2 separate regions of the Homo sapiens genome follow, and region 2 is linked to region 1. Evidence: fine-mapped expression QTL. A gene starts in region 1. The other region holds a variant in brackets. All regions are shown on one strand. Distances are between the middles of the regions.

What was found. PIP is the estimated chance that this variant, and not a neighbour inherited with it, causes the effect. A credible set is the group of variants that fine-mapping cannot tell apart.
Region 2: its variant is the best candidate, but not a certain one, in a credible set for the expression of ARPC5L in lung (TOPMed, PIP 0.70).

Annotation. Positions count from the first base shown.
Region 1 is chr9:124,856,947-124,867,056 of GRCh38, reverse strand. ARPC5L (actin related protein 2/3 complex subunit 5 like) reads right to left here and starts at 4,927. Exons shown (of 6, transcript NM_030978.3): 1 at 4,659-4,927; 2 at 2,950-3,069. It overlaps WDR38 (WD repeat domain 38), which reads right to left. Exons shown (of 9, transcript NM_001045476.3): 8 at 9,646-9,693; 9 at 9,179-9,555. The coding sequence ends at 9,427. It overlaps RPL35 (ribosomal protein L35), which reads left to right and starts at 5,100. Exons shown (of 4, transcript NM_007209.4): 1 at 5,100-5,147; 2 at 5,502-5,638; 3 at 6,793-6,874; 4 at 8,990-9,174. The coding sequence starts at 5,145. The coding sequence ends at 9,139. RefSeq lists enhancers at 4,681-4,900, 5,341-5,450, 5,491-5,540, 4,976-5,599, 6,588-7,087 and 1 more and silencers at 4,921-5,190, 8,230-8,512.
Region 2 is chr9:124,906,625-124,916,734 of GRCh38, reverse strand. It overlaps GOLGA1 (golgin A1), which reads left to right. Exons shown (of 23, transcript NM_002077.4): 11 at 4,709-4,834; 12 at 8,263-8,358. Among named protein-coding and RNA genes, the nearest start is that of GOLGA1, 29 kb to the left of the region's middle. The variant G/A (reference allele first, on the strand shown) is at 5,137.

The DNA of each region.
Region 1 (10,110 bases):
TCAGTATATTCGAGAAACAGCCAGGAACAGAAGAGAGATGAGGTGGGGGTTGGGAGGAGAGTAGGGCTCTGTAGGCCGAGGAAAGGACTCAGTCTTAATTCAAATGGGACAGCCCTGGAAATTCTGAGCAGAACAGTAATAGATCAGAAGTCTGAATTGTTTGAAAAGGGCCTTCTAAGCAGCTGTATTGAGAACACATCTGGGATCGAGAACCAAAGTAGAGAGGTGATTTAGATGGTGACAGCAACCATCCAGGGGACAGACAGTGGTAGCCCAACCAGGCAGGGGCCAATGAGGATGGTGGGAACAAGCTGGGTAAATTTTTTTTTAATTTTTTTGAGACGGAGTTTTGCTCTTATTGCCCAGGCTGGACTGCAATGGGGCTATCTCAGTTCACCGCAACCTCTGCCTCCCGGGTTCAAGCAATTCTGCCTCAGCCTCCCGAGTAGCTGGGATTACAGGCATGCGCCACCATGCCTGGCTAATTTTGTATTTTTAGTAGAAACGGGGTTTCTCCATGTTGGCTGGCCTAGTGTTGAACTCCTGACCTCAGGTGATCTGCCCACCTCGGCCTCCCAAAGTGCTGGGATTACAGGCATGAGCCACCGTGCCCCACCAATTTCTTATTTTGTTTTATTTTATTCATTTTTTTTGAGATGGAGCCTCACTCTGTTGCCCAGGCTGGAGTGCAGTGGCACAGTCTCAGCTCACTGCACCCTCCACCTCCAGGGTTCAGGTGATTCTCCTGCCTCAGCCTCTGGAGTAGCTGGGATTACCGGCACCTGCCACCACACCTGGCTAATTTTTGTATTTTTAGTAGAGACAGGGTTTCACCATGTGGGCCAGGCTGGTTTCAAACTCCTGACCTCAGGTGATCCACCTGCGTCGGCTTCCTAAAGTGCTGGGATTACAGACGTGAGCCACTGCGCCTGACCTGTTTTTTTGTTTTTTTAAGAGGGAGTCTCACTGTGTCGCCTAGGCTAGAGTGCAGTGGCCCAACCTCAGCTCACTGCAACCTCCGCCTCCAGGGTTCAAGTGATTCTCCTGCCTCAGCCTCCCAAGTAGCTGGGAGTACAGGTGCACACCACCACGCCTGGCTAATTTTTATATTTTTAGTAGAGACAGGTTTTCACCATGTTGGTCAGGCTGGTCTCGAACTCGTGACCTCATGATCTGCCCGCCTTGGCCTCCCAAAGTGCTGGGATTACAGGTGTGAGCCACCACGCCCAGTCCCAATTTTGTTTTTTTTGTTTTTTGTTTTTTTGAGATGGAGTTTTGCTCTTTCGCCCAGGCTTGAGTGAAGTGGCGCAATCTTGGCTCACTGCAACCTCTGCCCCCTGGGTTGAAGCAATTCTCCTGCCTCAGCCTCCCGAATAGCTGTGATTATAGGCACCCGCCACCATGCCCGGCTAATTTTTTTTGTATTTTTAGTAGAGACACGGTTTCACCATGTTGGCCAGGCTGGTCTCGAACTCCTGACCTCAGGTGATCCACCTGCCTTGGCCTCCCAAAGTGCTAGGATTACAGACGTGAGCCACCTCACCCGGCCTTAAGTTGGGTAAATTTTGAAGGTAGAGTACCTGGAATTTACTGGTTGACTAGATGTGGCGTGTAAGAGAGAGTCACAAATGACTTCAGGTTCGAAAAAGATGTGCAGAGTCATTAACTCTAAGCATTTAAAAATATAACAGCAAAGGCACTGTGCACCATTAGACTTTCCTTTTTTTTTTTTTTTTTTTTTAGACAGAGTTTCCCTCTTGTCACCCAGGCTGGAGTGCAATGGCCCGATCTCGGCTCACTGCAACCTCTGCCTCTGGGTTCAAGCGATTCTCTTGCTTCAGCCTCCAGAGTAGCTGGGATTACAGGCGTGCACCACGTGAGCCACCACGCCCGGCCTAGACTTTCATTTAAGACTAAGCTATGCCGGCCAGGTACAGTGGTTCACACCTGTAATCCCAACACTTTGGGAGGCCGAGACAGGTGGATCACCTGAGGTCAGGAGTTTGAGACCAGCCTGGCCAACGTGGTGAAATGCCGTCTCTACTAAAAATATAAAAATTAGCCAGGCATCATGGCGGCACCTGTAATCCCAGCTACTTGGATTACAGTAGCTGTAGGCAGGCTGGGAGGCTGAGGCAGAAGAATCCTTTGGACCCAGAAGGCAGAGGTTGCAGTGAGCCGAGATTGTGCCATTGCACTCCAGCCTGGGCAACAAGAATGAAACTCAGTCTCAAAAAAAAAAAAAGGTCCAGGCGCACTGCGCCGTGGCTCATGCCTGTAATCGCAGCACTTTGGGAGGCTGAGGCAGGCGGATCTCTTGAGGTCAGGAGTTTGAGACCACCCTGGCGAAACCCCGTCCCTACAAAAAATACAAAGATGGGCCAGGCGCGGCAGCTCACACCTGTAATCCCAGCACTTTGGGAGGCCAAGGCAGGCGGATCACAAGGTTAAGAGTTCAATACCAGCCTGGCCAACATGGTGGCCAGGTGAAATATGGTGAAACCCCGTCTCTACTAAAAAAACAAAAATTAGCTTGGCTTGGTGGTGCATGCCTGTATTCCCAGTTCCTCGGGAGGCTGAGGCAGGAGAATCGCTTGAACCTGGGAGGCAGAGGTTGCAGTGAGAGCCGAGATTGTGCCCCTGCACTCCAGCTTGGGCAATAGAGCAAGACTCCATTTTGGAAAAAAACAAAAATACAAAGATTAGCCGGGCATGGTGGCACGCACCTATGTAATCCCAGCTATTCAGGAGGCTGAGGCACAAGGATCGCTTGAACCTGGGAGGTGGAGGTTACAGTGAGCTGAAATTGTGCCACTGCACTCCAGCCTGGGTGACACAGCAAGACTCCATTTCAAAAAAAAAAAAAAAAAGTCTAAGCCATGCCGGGATTGCCCTCTCTCTACTCTCTTTTTTCCCCATATCCCTCCACCTCCTGAAAGCCTTCCTCACCTTGGTGTGGGTCAAGGTTCATTAATTCATCCAACAAGCATCCATGTACTGGGCCTGGAGACTAGAACAATTAATTCAGTTGTCCGCCAAGGTTCTGTCCCCAGAGAACTTCTAGGTTGGCTGTGGAAATAGACACATAAATGCATCATTTTATTTCAGCCTGTTTGGGGCTAAGGAAAGGATTGCACAGAGGTTGCTACTCATAGGAGATGGGAGAAGTCTCCTTGTGGGTGGTTACAGCTGGTAGTAACAAGAGGACAATCTGGCTTCAACCATAACTCTAAGAGGTGGCATGTCTTTATTAAGGGCAAGGGAGTGGCACTGGAGTGCTGATTAATGCCTACTGGTTGGCAGACATTAATCAGAAAGCCTAAACATGCCCTGCCTTGTGAATTCCCGTTTCACTTTCCGGGCTCTACTGAAGTGTTCCTTCCTCTGGGAACATGAACACCAATGATATTTTGAGCCATTGTTATGCGTCAGATTTCGGGTTAACAGCTTTACAGATATCTCCTCTAATTCTCATAAATGCCTCATTTCACATGTGAGCAAACTGAGACTCAAGAAAGGGGAAGAGATTTCCCAAGAGTCTCAACTACTACCTTGGCAGCAGAGCAAGAATTTGAAACCTGGTCAGGTTCACTTTAAAAAAGGCTGTACTAGCCGGGCGCAGTGGCTCACACCTGTAATCCCAGTATTTTGGGAGGCTGAGGCGGGTGGATCACTTGAGGTCAGGGGTTTGAGACCAGCCTGGCTAAACCTTGTCTCTACTAAAAATACAAAAATTTAGCTGGGTGTAGTGGCACACACCTGTAGTCCCAGTTACTGGGGAGGCCAAGGCAGGAGAATCTCTTGAACCCGGGAGGTGGAGGTTGCAGTGAGCCGAGATCGCGCCACTGCACTCCAGCCTAGGCGACAGAGCCAGACTCCATCTCAAAAAATATATAAAAAATAAAATAAAAATAAAAAAGGCTGTATGGCCAGGCGAGGTGGCTAACCCCTGTAATCCTAGGCACTCTGGGAGGCCGAGGAGGGCGGATTGCTTGAGCCCAGGAGACCACCCTGGGCAACAGCTCTACAAAAAATAAACAAATTAGCCAGGCCTGGTGGCTTGTGCCTGTAGTTTCAGCTACTCGGGAGACTGAGGTGGGAGGGCTGCTTGAACCCGGGAAGCGGAGGTTTTGGTGGGCGGAGAGCGCGCCATGCCTTCCAGCCAGGGTGACAGAGCGAGACCCTGTCTGAAAAAAAAAATTAAAAAATAAAAAAAATAAATAAAGGCTGGGGCCAGGCGTGGTGGCTCACGCCTGTAATCCCAGCACTTTGGGAGGCCGAGGCGAGGGGATCACCTGAGCTGAGGAGTTCAAGATCAGCCTGGGCAACATGGCGAAACCCCGTCTCTACTAAAAATACAAAAAATTAGCCAGGCGTGGTGGTGCATGCCTGTAATCCCAGCTACTCAGCTACTCGGGAGGCTGGGGCAGGAGAATCGCTGAACCCGGGAGGCGGAGGTTGCAGTAAGCCGAGATCGCGACACTGCACTCCAGCCTGGCACCCTGGGCGACAGAATGAAGCTCTGTCTCAAAAAAAAAAAAAAAAAAAAAGGTGTAAATGCTCTTTGCAGTTCCATATACTGCCTCCCCAGAACCTTTATGGAGTTGGATTATAACTGCCTGAGCCCGCCCCTCCCGTCCATCTCGCGCTTTAAATTCCTCCGCGACGTGAGCCTCGGTTAATCGTCTTTGAAAACTCTGGCCCCTCCTCCCGTCAGCACCCCCAGACTACTGGCGCCCAGCTCAGAGTTGCCCAGATTGGGAGATCTGCAAGGTTTCCCGAAGGAATGAATGAACGAATGACTGAATGGACGAATTTGAGTCCTCCGTGTGCCATCTCTGGTAGCTGCCGCCCACGTTGGGCCTCGGTTTCCCCAACTGCGCGCCTACACCGTGACGCCGACCTCGCTATCAGGGGTGCCGTGAATGAGGCGAGCACTACAAGGCGGGGCTCCGGCCCTACCAGGCGGGGCGGGCAGTACCACGGCGTTCCTCGGGGGCGGGGGAGATGAGGCGGAGCCGGGGCTCCCCCGCTGCGGCGCCATTGGCCGCGCCCGCCGCCACCCGGCAGTAGTTGCGGAGGTCAGCCCCGCCTACTTCCTCTTTCCCTCGGAGCGGGCGGCGGCGTTGGCGGCTTGTGCAGCAATGGTGAGAGCTGCGGAATCGGGCGCCATCCGAGCGCTGTGAGGCGCGGGGGTTGGGGAAGGCGGTGCGGGCTGAGCCCGCGGATTCTATCTGCCACCTAGGCCTGTGGGGCGCCGCGCAGAATGGTCTGGCGCCACCACAACCCGCCTCTTCGCTTGGCGCCGGGAGAGGCGCGCGGCCCGGGCCTGGGTTACTCTGCCCAAGGCACGGCCGGCGAGGGAGACTGTCCTGAGCCCTGGTTGGGGCTCCGGCGCACTCGTAGTCGATGGCGAGTCGCGCGCCTTTGGGGGCTGGCCACGCAGGTGAAGGGGATATGGCCCCGCGGCCTGGCTGAGGCACACTCTCTCTTGCGCGCAGGCCAAGATCAAGGCTCGAGATCTTCGCGGGAAGAAGAAGGAGGAGCTGCTGAAACAGCTGGACGACCTGAAGGTGGAGCTGTCCCAGCTGCGCGTCGCCAAAGTGACAGGCGGTGCGGCCTCCAAGCTCTCTAAGATGTAAGTGAGGCGGCCGGATCACAGCCCTCGTGGGTGGGGAGCACGTGTGCATCGGGATCGTCGGAGGATTTCAAAGTTGGCTTAAGGAGCTGGCCGCTTAGATGCCCACTCCGTGCATCCTGGCGCGCATGGGAGACCCGTTGTGTGCTTAGCCTCTTACCTGCCTTGACCTTGCGGTCCTTGTGCCTGGAATGCATCCCCGGAGACCCATCTTAATGCTGCCTTCAAAGCCTACCCGGACCCCTTCCTTCCGCTTCCCACCAACACTTGAGTTTTTAACCCCCTTGGCAGGTGGGTGGCTTGCACCCTGGAGTGGCAGCGTAAGTTATTTTACATGGCTAAGAGTGCGGGAGACTTGTGAAAGGAACATGGGTTTGGAGTTCATCAACCTGGGTACAAAGTCCACTTCTCAAAAAAAAATTAGATGGGTGTGGTGGTACAGGCCTGTAGTCCCAGCTACTCTGGAGGCTGAGGCAGGAGGATCACTTGAGCCCAGGAGTTGGGAGGCTATGATGGGGCCACTGCTCTTCAGTCTGGTTGACAGGTGAGACCCTGTCTCCAAAAAAAAAAAATGGTGGTTGCCCTCTTTGCCCCCAAACAACCTTAGTAGAGGCAGGGGTGGGAGGATTGGACAAGCACAGTTGCACACTGAATCCTCAAAAACCATGTTGACCAGCTGTCTACTAGGTGACTCCCTCATCCTGACATGACTACAAATAACTTCTCCCTGGCTCGTTGTTTGCTTCAGTCTCCTGGCTTGTAGTGACTCCACTTTGCAAATGTCTTGTTTCTCTCTCCTGCAGTTCCCTAAGCTAGCCTGATTGCCTGGTTTGTGGCATGATTCCTTCCCATCAGCTCATTGAAATTGGCATTGGTTGGGTCTTAGCCCTCAGGATAAATTCGTGTTCTGGGATTGAAGGTCTTTTTCTGATCTGCCTCATTTATCCAGCCTGCACTTCCTCATAAAGCCTCTGCTGTCTCTCCCATGCCCCTCTCTTCCCTCCTCAGACCTCACTCCCAGAACGCCTTCCTCCTGAGTGAATATGGATGGGTTGATGGGGGAGGCTGCAGCTATTGCTGCCCTATGTGTGAGTCCTGAGTCTTGGGTAGTGCTATGTGTCTTCCCTATCTTCACTGACATCTCTGTTTTGTAGCCGAGTCGTCCGGAAATCCATTGCCCGTGTTCTCACAGTTATTAACCAGACTCAGAAAGAAAACCTCAGGAAATTCTACAAGGTGAGTCTGCCTGGACATAGGGAGGGTTGGCTGCAGGAAGCCAAGTGCTAGCCGTCCCTGGCCGGGGACATGGTAAAGAGGTTTTTCTTGGTGCGTGGGCTGAGAGTGGTTAGCCTTCCCAATTTGTTGCTGGGCTCACTCTTCTACCAGTGTCTTGCACTGGCACGTGGCTCTGCAGACCACTTCCTCAGGCTGCAGATGTCAAGAATTCATTGGGGCTTGGGGTGTCCTGGCTGGAGACTCAGTTTTTGAAACCAGCCTTCCCAGTTGAGTGGCTTGGGCAGTGATAGGACTGGCTGTTGAAGGTTTTCACTGCCTCTTACTGGCACTGGGTGTCAGTCCCTGCCAGGCACCTGCCATGCTCATTTTTCAGATGAGGGCCCTGAGGCCTAGACACCCACAGTCAATGGCATGATGGGCCCTGGTTCCAAACCTTACCTTGGGGAGGGTCGGCTTTAGTGTTCTGGGAGGTGTGCACAGGTGTCTGGCCCCCTCTTAGTCTTGAATTTTGATAACCATTTTCTGGTCTTGTCCTTAACATTCATCTTATTGGGGTTCAAGCAGAGAAAACTAGGGGGAGACGGTGTGTGCACATGCATCCAATGTATTCTGAAGAATGGGCATAGGTGATTGTGGGGGCTGGCTGGGACTCAGGGCTCAGGTTGAAGCTGCTGTTCCCAGTGGGTACTTGGAGGGAGCCTCAGCCCTGTGCTTAAGACTTACAGCTGATTGGATCGGGCCTTCTGGGATTACCCAGGATAATCTCCCCTAAAGTTACCTGATGAGGGTCTTTAATTTCATCTGCAAAATGGTTCCACATCACTACCCAAATTGTGTTTGAATAACTTGAAGATTTGACACAAGGGAAAAGCAGCCATGGCTGATGAAGTGCCACAGGCCTATAACCCCAGCTACTGGGAGGCCGAGGCAGGAGGATGGCTTGAGCCCAGGAGTTAAAGTGTAGCCTGGGCAACATAGTGAGGCCTCATCTCAAAAAAATGAGAAGGGCCATAGTGTGGCTATGTTAGCTGTTCAGGGGACACTAGCACGTGTGTGGCAAAAGTAAACCTTTAATGTCAGCAGCTACGTGTGTGGCTAGTGGCTGCTCTGTTGGACAGCAGAACTCTAGGGGGTTAGCCAATGTGAAAAGGACGAATGCCCAGCCGATGCCAGCAGGAGTGAGGGATGTGGGAGGACAAAGACTTTCCTGCTTCCAAGTACCCTCCAGGGCTGGCCCTCATTGTCCAGGATCTTTCTGCAGTCCTCTGCCCACCTGCAGGGGCCTGGGGCCCTGTGACCTCAGAATCCCCCATACCATGGGCCACTTGTTACCTGTTCAGTCTTCCCCCACTAGGCTGGGACCCCTGAGCAGGGACTGGGTCAGATCCTTTGCCAAGCCAGCTCCCAGCACAGGGCCCAGTCCTGAAGGGGGCCCAGGGGACCTTTGCAGAACACAGGAGAGACCAGTGAGAGCTGCCATGGTCTAGAACCCCCTGCTGGAGAACAAGTGGGGCAGGAGTGGGAGCCAAGGATGGAAAGACAGATGATGGCTCTGTGACAGCTGTGGGCAGGGGCCCCAAAGCCGGAAGCAGGTGGGGCAAGTGGCCTTGGCCAGCCAGGCCTCTGAGGCTGGACGTTCATACAGGCAGCAGCTGGTGGGCCCTGCATACAGATGGACAGAGTACTGCCTCAGCCCCCAGCATGCTCTTGCTAACCAGAGCCGAGGTAATGGTAACTACCCCCGGGGCTTGGTGGGTGCTGCGTGCCCTGTACTAGGTTGTCATGTGACTGTCCTCGTGACTGGGAATCGGGCAGTGGAAGGAGCACTGAGTTGGGAGTCACTTGACTGAGATGCAAGCCCCGGCTCTTCCACAGCTTTGCCAAGACTTGGACACTCAGCCCAGTAGGTCAGCAGACTTACATGAAATGAGGATGGTCCCACCAGCCTTAGATTTGGGGGGATTAATTGAGTTAGTGACATGTGTGGCCTGCTGGCAGTCCCATGGTGGCAGCCTCCTCCTGAGTGGCTCTGGATGGCCCTCCCCAGCCCCCTTAGCTGCTGCAGTAGCTCCTCAGCCCTGGGTCCTTGGATTCACCCTGCCGTCTGTCTCCCAGGGCAAGAAGTACAAGCCCCTGGACCTGCGGCCTAAGAAGACACGTGCCATGCGCCGCCGGCTCAACAAGCACGAGGAGAACCTGAAGACCAAGAAGCAGCAGCGGAAGGAGCGGCTGTACCCGCTGCGGAAGTACGCGGTCAAGGCCTGAGGGGCGCATTGTCAATAAAGCACAGCTGGCTGAGACTGCTTTGTTTCCTGGCACTTCCACTGATTGGGTGGAGGTGGGTGGGTCTGGTTTTGGGGACCAGGTGTCTGATGGGTTCCAGCAAGCGTCCTGCCCACCACAGTTGTCTGCTCTGGTGGGGCCTGGAGAGTCCTGGCCATGGGGATCTGCTGGATGCCAGCACAGTCACTTTGCGTCTGTGGGGAGAAGCGGCATGCCTGTGCGCCACTGAGGGGAGCGGGTGAGGTCGGCACCATCTAAGGTGGTTGGTGTTAGGTTTGAGGGTCCCTGGGTGATTTGGACGTGCGGGATATTTGACGTCTAGTCTGATCGGCAGCTCCAGACACTAAGATTTTCCCATCTGGGGTGAAGGCACAGGTGTGGGCCACATCCAGGACTCCCTGCTAAGAGTAGAAGGTGGGGCTCGAGGCAAGTCCTGCCTTGGGAGAAGCTGTCCACAGCTTCCTCAGTGCCACAGCGCCGTGCCTTACCTTCAGGGTCTCAAGGCACTTTCCTGTGTTGCAGTCCCAGACTTTGACCTGGAAAAGGAGGGGGGCATGTCAGGAAGCCTCACCAGGCCACTGTGGCATCTGAAGCCACCTCCAGGAAAGTCCCAGACAAAATATGAGATGAGTCTTCGCCTGAACTCCTGACCTCAGGTGATTCACCTACCTCCACCTCCCAAAGTGCTGGGATTACAGGTGTGAGCCACCGCCCCCGGCCCAAAAAACATCTGAACCTCTTGGTGTAGGTTTTGTTTGGAGGCTGTATTTGAAATTTCAGAGCAGGAGTTCCCTTTTGCCTGATGCCATTTGGGTCATGGAAATGTCAATGCAACTACCAATGGGCCAGCCCTAACCTTGGTGCTGGCCATTAGGAAGAGAGGCTGGCACCCAGGTCCTGCCCTTGCCCCCTCCTAGCTAGGGCAAGTGGGGATGTGGGCATTTCTGGAGTGA
Region 2 (10,110 bases), 50 kb before region 1:
CTGGCTAATTAAAAAAAAATTTTTTTATAGTTAAGGTCTCACTATGTTGCCCAGGCTAGTTTTGAATTCCAGGACACAAGCAATCCTCCTGCCTCAGCCTCCCAAAGTCCTGGGATTACAGGCATGAGCCACTTTGCCTGGCTTGTGAAGATTTTTAATTACTGAATAGATTTCCTTAATGGTAATTCTAAGTTTATGTATTTCTTCCTAAGTTTTGTTAATTTATATTTTTCTACATAATTGTTCATTTGCTATAAGTTTAATGTTTTGGCATTGTATTTCTTATATTCTTTTTTTAGTTGCTCCCCTATCTTCATTCATAGTAGTATTTATGCATTTTCTATTTTTTTCTAGTTTATTCTTACCAGATGTCTGTCAGTTTGGAAACAAAATTTTACTTTAATTCTTTTCATTTTGTTTTTATTTAACCCACAGTGTTCAGAATTACACATTTTTTACTCTACTGGATAGCAGTTCCTCAACTGTAGCCATTATCTTTCAACTTCCCAATTTATGTTCTTCCTAACCTGTATTGTACTTAACACAATATTTTCATGGAATTCACCTTACTTTTTTTTTTTTACTTAAATAAGTATATTTATGTATTTATTTATTTATTTATTTATTTATTTAGAGATACAGTCTTGCTCTGTTGCCCAGGCTGGAGTGCAGTGGTGTGATCTTGGCTCACTGCAGCCTCCACCTCCCAGGTTCAAGTGATTCTCCTGCCTCAGCATCCCGAGTAGCTGGGACTATAGGCACATGCCACCATGCCCAGCTAATTTTTGTATTTTTAGAAGAGACAGGGTTTCACCATATTGGTCAGGCTGGTCTTGAACTCCTGACCTCTTGATCTGCCTGCCTCGGACTCCCAAAGTGCTAGGATTACACACGTGAGCCACCACGCCCTGCCATTTATTTTATTTTATCTATCTATTTATTTATTTTTGAGACAGAGTTTTGCTCTTGATGCCCAGGCTGGAGTGCAGTGGCGCGATGTTGGCTCACTGCAACCTCAACCTTTTTTGTTTTCAATTTTTTTACTTTTGTAGAGAAAAGATCTCCCTGTGTTACCTGGGCTGGTTTTGATCTCCTGGCTTTAAGCAAGCCTCCTGCCTCGGCCTCTCACAGTGCTGGGATTACAAACATAAGCCACTGGTCTCAGCACCATAAATACATTTATAATGAAGGAAAAAAAGGCATGTTGGGAGAACCAAAAGGATAGACAAGTGGTTAACGCTTAGAAAGGAAGTGGAAACGGTGCTAGATGAGGCTGGGAAGGTATGCAGGGCCAGTTGTATAGACTAAATAGTGAACATGAAATTTCATAAATAATCATTAGTGAATATTTAACAAGAATAGCTGAGCATTTACCCTGAGCTCAGTATTCAAGAGCTTTACAGATAGGGACTCATCGAGTCCTCACAACTACCCTTTGGTTAGACAGTGTTTTCCTATTTTACAGGTGATAGTAATGGGCATCTGACATCAAAGGCTAAATGATTTGTCAAGACCGTACAGCTGGAGTCAATGACAGAGCCAGGATTCAGACTCATGTCTGTCTGAATCAAGTGACCACCACCCAGAATTGATGCAGTCCATATTCTGGGACTATAACTGTGAGACCCAGACTCGGGAGGGAGTAGGTGAAGAGGGTGATCATTAGGAAAGGGGCAGGTTTGATGTCAGGGAGTATGGCTTGGTAACTGTTCCCGTAGTCCACATGAGGTGTAGAGGGCCTGAAGTAAATCAGCCAGCCTGGAGAAGGAGATCGCATATCAATATGTTGCACAAGAGGCATAAGTGGAACTTGGCCACTGATTCTTTTTCTGTCCCTAACTTTGCCTAACACAGTGACCTGTGTAAGATGTGTTGTTTTGGTTTTAACTGGAATGGGTCATCTATACCTCTTGAATTCAGATTGATGTGTAGGGGAACAAATGCAGACTTTGGATCCAGAAGACCTGGATTTAAATTCTTCATCTATCGCTAATAGGTATATGCCTTTGGGCTAGTCCCTAAGCTTCAGTTTCCTTGTAAATGGATGTGATAAAGAGCATTTGTAAGGACTAGACATAATAGGAAGTGCTTGCAGCGTTCCCTTGACCCTATATGTCTGTCTTTACGCTATTACCACACTGTCTTGGTCATTGTCACTTTAGAGTTGAAATCAGGTAATGTTCTCCAACTCTTACATCAACAGTTACTCTTTTTCTTTCCTTTTTTTTTTTCTTTGAGACGGAGTGTCGCTCCTCGCTCAGGCTGGAGTGCAGTGGCGCGATCTTGGCTCACTGCAAGCTCCGCCTCCCAGGTTCACGCCGTTCTCCCGCCTCAGCCTCCTGAGTAGCTGGGACTACAGGCGCCTGCCACCACGTCCGGCTAATTTTGTTTTTGTATTTTTAGTAGAGATGGGGTTTCACCGTGTTAGCCAGGATGGTCTCGATCTCCTGACCTCGTGATCTGCCCACCTCAGCTTCCCAAAGTGCTGGGATTACAGGCGTGAGCCACCACGCCCAGCCTACAGTTATTCTTTTTCAAGATTGCTGCAGCAATCTTGTTATAGCTGCTTCTGCTATATTACAGTTATAACTATTGCTAGTATTAACATTAGTAATAAGAGACCCATAAAGATGGGTCAACATGGCCAAAACTGGCTTTTTTTTTCCTATCACACTCACTCACTTTCCTGTGTTATCCACCTTGCATAATGTTACCATTTGCCCAGGTGTCTGAGCCACAGACCTGAGAGTTGTGTTCAGCTGTTCTTTCCTCCTCACCCAGCCTCTAGCCTTGCAGGACTTGTCTGTTACCTCTTTGTATGTGCTGCCCTTTATGCAGAATGATTGTTCCTCTTCCACCCTCTTTCACCTGGACTTGCCCATTCAGGAGGCCTGATCTGATTCTCCCAGTTAATCCCTCTTGCATCTCATATCTCATAGCACGGTGTGTGTCCCTCTGTTGAAGCACAGTTGTTTTGTAATTAGGTGTGTGTCTGTCTCCACCACCAGCCTCCATGCTGGAATTAATGTTGATTGTATCCTCAGAAAACAACAGATAGAGTTCAGGCTTGATGAAAGTTTATTGAATTGTGGGGTCATAAATCTAGTCTTCAGACTTCCCCTCCACTATCTCTGTTGTCCACCTGTGAGAATTCAGAATGGCAAATACTTCTTCCCAAAACCATACACCCTGGTTGCTGCATCTTATCCTGAGGAGAGATCGGCCAAGTTACAACTGAACATGAAAGTTTATGGCTTGAAATGGAGCAACGGAAGTGTAAGATAAGGGAATTTGAGGGAACAGAGTACATGTAAAGAGGTACAAGTCTTCACAGTGAGATTTTGTTGCCCTACAACCTTTTCTGGGGAAGAATGGGCATCCTCAGTGGGGATGTAAGAACTCATGTATTCAAAGCTTCCTGGATCCTCTGCTTTGACATTGAGCAGTGATATGGTTAGGCTCCGTGTCTCATCTCAAATTGTAATGCCCACATGTCAAGGGAGGGACCTGGTGGGAGGTGATCGGATCATGGAGGCAGATTTCTCCTTTGCTGTTCTTGTGATAGTGAGTGAGTTCTCATGAGAGCTGATGGTTTTACAGTATGGCACTTCCCCCCTCGCTCGCTTGCTCTATCCTGCCACCGTGTAAGATGTACCTTGCTTCCCCTTCTCCTTCTGCCATGCTTGTAAGTTTCCTGAGGCCTCCCAGCCATGTGGAACTGTGAGTCAATTAAATCTCTTTCCTTTATAAATTACTCAGTCTCAGGTATTCTTTATAGCAGTGTGAGAATGGACTAATACAAGCAGCAGTTGAAGATTAGTAGCAGTAAAAGGAACCAAGTTAGTCCCAACCTGTTGCTACCACCACTACCATCATAGCTAAAGAGATAGACTGGCCAGGCACAGTGGCTTACGCCTGTAATCCTAGCACTTTGGGAGGCCGAGGCTAGTGGATCATGAGGACAGGAGATTGAGACCATCCTGGCCAATATGGTGAAACCCCGTCTCTACTAAAAATACAAAAAATTAGCCGGGTGTGGTGGTGGGCGCCTGTAGTCCCAGCTACTCGGGAGGCTGAGGCAGGAGAATGGCGTAAACCCAGGAGGTGGATGTTGCAGTGAGCCGAGATCGCGCCACTGTACTCCAGCCAAGGCAACAGAGCGACACTCCGTCTCAAAAAACCAAAAATAATAGATTGAAATAAAACGGGCAGCTGTTGGTCTAAAGCCAAGGTATGAGAAGCATGGCAGCTCTGCTGTGGTCCCTGTCCTGTGAGCCAGGTGAATCTCATCATTTCAGAAGTTCTCTCTTTAGCCTTAAAGCCACTACATCAGCACTGTTACTGCTTTATCCAGCCCCTCAGCTTTCAGGAGCATTGTTCCATAGGTCATTGCAGGCTGAGTGCTTCTTGGTGGGATTAGTTCTGCTGCCTCTACCACGTAGGTAATGCCTTTGTTCCAGACTGTCAGTTGTTTAATTGGGAAGAGTGTTTGCTTCTTGCTGCACTAGGTCTGAGCTGGATCCCTGAGTTTTGCCAGGTTCTAATCTTGCATTTTCTGTATCCCATTTTCAGGAAGATCTCTTAGCTGTTTGTTCTTCTAGGATACAGTTGAGGACAGAGTTGCAGGAAAATGTGATGGCCCAAAAGAAAGCAGGAAGGAAGGAAGAGAGGGCTTCTAGTATAGAGTGATCTCTGCTTTCACCTGCAGGTCACTGCTGAAACTCAAGAGAAAGAAGACGTTATCACACATTTGCAAGAGAAGGTTGCATCCTTGGAGAAGAGACTAGAACAGAACTTATCAGGAGAAGAACACTTGCAAGAACTCCTGAAAGAGGTAACTTCTGTTCTCTTTGGGCTGGCTGGTGTTGGAAAGGCAGGGTTGATTCTGGTGACTTCACAATTCCTAGAGTTTCAGAGCTGTAGGGCCAGCAAACAGCATGGTAACAAAAGAAGTGTCTCCAACTTTGGCTTGTCCTGCTTACATCAGAAAGAGCCTTATGTCCCCTGTGGGTGACATGCTTTTCTCAGGGAAAGGGAGAGCTGTATTCAGAGATACATACAAACGGATAGCATCTCATCACCAATAAACCACACCTAGTGATTTCCGCCACTTGGGCTGCCTTGTCTTTCTGCACT[G/A]CCCTCTTCCCCACCATTTTGTACTCTGCAGTGGCCAAGGTAAATAGCTACATCTGCCCCTTGGCAAAAGCAAGAATTACCTTGGGCAGCATTCTCTCCTTCCCAAGGGAGGCTGTTGTGCAGACTGGCCTCTTCCCCAGTGGTGCAAGGGAACTTTCTCATCAGGCTGAGCTCATTGTCTGCACACATTCTGCTCTTCCCTCTCTTTCTGTTCCAGTGATTGGCCACACTGTGACAAAGGTGACAAAGCCCAGGTCATGAGGCTCCTAGATTAGACCCTCCCTTTCTTTCTTCAGTCAGTTTCAACTAAATACCTCCATCTCCAGTGCCACTGGTTGTACTTCAGGGTTTCCAGCAAATCTAGCCTAGTCTATGTTAGAAGTCTCCAGATTGGCCTACCCAGCATCAGTCTCTCTTCCTTCACTCTCTGACACAGTCTCCCACGCTCACTGCCAAACTGATCCTCCTAATCAGCACTGGTGACCATATCACTCTCTTAAACATCTTCTACAATTCCCTTCAACAGTCTACAGGAAGTGTAATGTGGGTTCTAGGGAATAAATTGATTTCTAGAATCAGAATGTCCATGCTTGCATTTTGCCTCTTCTGCTTACCAGCTTTGACTTGGAGCAGCAGTTCCCAACCGTTTTGGCACCAGGGACTGGTTTCGTGGAAGACAGTTTTTCCACAGATGGGGTCAGGTTGGGTCGGGTGAGGGGGTGGTTTCAGAATAAAACTGTTCCACCTCAGATCATCATCGTCCCTAGATTCTCATAAGGAGTGTGCAACCTGGATCCCTCACTTGCACAGTTCACAATAGGGTTCATGCTCCTATGAAAATCTAACACCACCACTGATGTGACTGGAGGCAGATCTTAGGTGGTAGTGCTTACTCACCACTCACCTCCTGCTGTGCGGCCTGGTTCCTAACAGACTGCAAGGTCTGTGGCCCAAGGGTTGGGGACCCCTGACTTAGAGCAAGTAATTTAATCTCTTTGTGTTTGCTTCCTCCCCAATAAAATTGGTTTTATTATACTATTAAACTCAGAATTGTTGTTAGGGTTAAATAAGTTACAATATGTGAAGTGCTTAGAATGATAACCGGAACAGAGTAGGGTCTCAATGTATGTCAGCTGTAAACATGATCAATATTATTATTGTGCCATCATCATTATTATAATGTTTAATGTGCATAGAAATTACTTGGGAAGTTTGTTTAAAGTATATATCTCTAGGCCAGGCGTGGTGGCTCACGCCTGTAATCCCAGCACTTTGGGTAGCCGAGGCGGGCAGATCACCTGAGGTCAGGAGTTCAAGACCAGCCTGGCCAACATGGCAAAACCCCGCCTCTATTAAAAATACAAAAATTAGGCCAGGCGCGGTGGCTCACACCTATAATCCCAGCACTTTGGGAGGCCGAGGCGGGCGGATCACAAGATCAGGAGATCGAGACCATCCTGGCCAACATGGTGAAAGCCCGTCTCTACTAAAAATACAAAAATTAGCTGGGCGTGGTGGCACATGCCTGTAGTCCCAAGCTACTCCGGAGGCTGAGGGAGGAGAATTGCTTGAACCTGGGAGGTTGCAGTGAGCTGAGATCATGCCACTGCACTCCTGCCTGGTGACAGAGCGAGACTCTGTCTCAAAAAAATAAATAAATAAATAAATTAGCTGGGCATGGTGGCGGGTGCCTGTAATTCCAGCTACTCAGGAGGCTGAAGCAAGAGAATCACTTGAACCCAGGAGGCGGAGGTTGCAGTGAGCCAAGATCGCACCACTACTTTCCAGCCTGAGCGACAAGAGTGAAATTCCATCTCAAAAATAATAAATAAGTAAATAAAGTATATATCTCTGGCCCTACCCTCAGAAATTCTGATTTCCTTAGGCTTGGAGCAAGGCCTCAAATCTGTGCAACTAGCTGAGATTAACAACTATCTCAGTAACAGCTATCTCAGCTAAGTCTACATTTCTTTTTTTTTTTTTTTTTTTTGAGACGGAGTCTCACTCTGTTGCCCAGGCTAGAGTGCAGTGGCGTGATCTCGGCTCACTGCAACCTCTGCTTCCCGGGGTTCAAGTGATTTTCCTGCCTCAGCATCCCGAGTAGCTGGGACTACAGGTGCACACCACCACATCCAGCTAATTTTTTTGTATTTTTAGTAGAGACAGGGCTTCACCATGTTGGTCAGGCTGGTCTCGAACTTCTGACCTCGTGATCTGTCCACGTCGGCTTCCCAAAGTGCTGGGATTACAGGCGTGAACCACCGCTCCCAGCCCCATTTTTTTTTTTAAGACAGAGTCTCACTCTGTCACCCAGGCTGGAGTTCAGTGGTACAATCTCTGCTCACTGCAACTCCGCTTCCTGGGTTCAAGTAATTCTCCTGCCTCAACCTCCCAAGTAGCTGGGATTACAGGTACCCACCACCACATCCAGCTAATTTTTAAAATATTTTTAGTAGAGATGGGATTTCACCACGTTAGCCAGGCTGGTCTCGAACTCCTGACCTAAAGTGATCTGCCTGCCTCAGCCTCCCAAAGTTCTGGGATTACAGGTGTGAGCCACCACACCCGGCCTAGAATTTCTACTTTGAAAAATGTTGCTTACAGAATCAAGTTCTAACTCCTTTTTGCAACATTCAAAAGCTTCTCATGAGCTGGCCCTTTTGCCTATCTTTCTAGTCTTGTTTTTTGACCTAAACCCATCATCATTTTGGCTTCTGAGGAGTAGTAGTTCCCTCAACGTAGCAGGCTGTTCACATAGCCGTTGGTCATCCCCCTGCCTGGGAGGCTCCCTGAACCCTAACGACTTTGTGAGTTCTAAAGCTGCCTACCTGCCCTGTGGCAGGGAGTATCTCCCACCCTGTGCTTCTTCCTCTTTGTGGACACTTACTGTACTCTATTGTGTAATTTTTTATTAGTCTTTTGTTCCAGCCTCAAGGTCAAGGGACTATTTCAAATTTATCTGTGTGTACTTTATGATATGTGAATTATTTCTCAATTAGCTGAATTATTAAAAATGTATTCATGTCTCTTGTGCCTAGCACAAGTCACAATATGTTGTAGATAATCTGTAAATATTTATTCAACTGAGGAATGATAGTCTTCTTTTACTCTTCTTTCAACTTACAGAAAACACTTGCTGAGCAGAATTTGGAGGATACCAGACAACAGCTCTTGGCAGCCAGAAGCAGCCAGGCTAAGGCCATTAACACCCTGGAGACTCGGGTACTGACCTTACTCCTGGTGTTTCCTAAGTTTGGGTGGTAACCTGGCTGAATGGCAACATGGTGTGACTGAGAATCTTCTTGGTCAGAGTTTTTTCACTAGAAGGGATTATTTTTGGATCTTACCTATACAGGGATGAGTTAGTCATTTTCTTCATCCTTGTCACATTACTATGATTGAGTTATATGTTTATTTATACCCTTTTATCCCCATTGGCCTCCCTCCCATAGGATACCATTCCGTTGTGGTTCATATAGATGCTCTTTTTGTTGGGTTGTTTTAAAATATGTAGCACTGGGTTTTTAATTTCTGTAAATGATGCAGCTATGGGTATGTTTTCTCTATTACTTTTAGCTGCCTCAACTTCTGTCTGTACCCACTTCATTGTACTTTGTAGTTATCTATGTGGTAGACATCCAGATTGCTTCCTTCTTCCTGCCACCTCAGATCATGCATAAAACCTAAAGAGACTAAGTACTATAGGAGAAGATTGTTCCCAGCAAGCCTGCACCTGGCTCTCCTCCTCCAGCATGCATGAGCGTTCCTATATATGCCTTTCTGACTTTTCCAGCATTGGCATTTCCAAGCCTTTACAATTTTTGCCAGTTTACTGAGTGTGGAGTGGTATTTCATTGCTTTAATTTGCATTGCTATGGTGATTAATGAGTTTGGCCTTGTCTTCATGTGCCTGTTAATTCCTGGGGGTTTCTGCTTTTGGAATTGCCCATTCATATCCTTTCCTTATTTTCTTTGGGGGTTTCAGTCTTTTCTTATTTGGTTTGTAGGATTTCATTGTATATTCTTGTTCCTAATGCTTTATCAGTTTCAGTCCTGAGTCATTCTGTTAACTTTGTCCATGTATCCTTTGTTGAATAGACTTTCTTAAGTTCAGTGTTACCAGATTCATCACATTTTTGCTGTGGAGTTTGAAGTTCCATTTAGAAAATCTATTCCTGTTCCTAAGTCACAGAGATCTACTGTTTTTTCCCTATTAACTTTATAATTTTTCCTTCACATAATAAATCTCTAATTCACTTACAAACTGTCTTTCTGTATGGTCTTAGGTAGGGATCTAAATATGGAGAAATTCTGCATATTTCTCAAAATCATTTACTAAACAGTCTGTCCTTTCTGAATTGATTCCTCTTGCTAACTTTATCACGTATTGTTTCTGTCTGCACATGGGTTTGTCTCTGCATTCTCTGTCCATTGGTCTGATTGTCTGCTCTTGTGTAAACACTACAATGTTTTTATTACTATAGTGATATCTGTACTATATCTCAACACCCAATAAGACAAATTCTCTTTTTTTTTCAAAGGTTGACTTTAACTATTTATGGGCCTTTAAAATTTTTAAGTTTTTGAGTTACTAAAAAATTCAACTTGAATTTTTATTGGGATTGCATTAAATGTATAGGCTAATTGGGAAAAATTGTCCATTTTATAATATTAATTATTCCTTCTAACAATGTAAATATATTCCATTTATTCAGATTATTTTCTGTGTGTTTTATTAAAATTTTACATTTTTCTCAATAGATGTCTTATTTTCTTGCCTAAGTTGCTAATTCCTAGAAACTTTAGAGTTTGTGTTGATACTGTGATGGTATCTTTTTTTTCTTTTGAGACAGAGTTTTGCTCTTGTCACCCAGGCTGGAGTGCAATGGCACAATCTCGGCTCACTGCAACCTCCACCTCTCGGGTTCAAGCGATTCTCCTGCTTCAGCCTGCCGAGTAGCTGGGATTACAGGT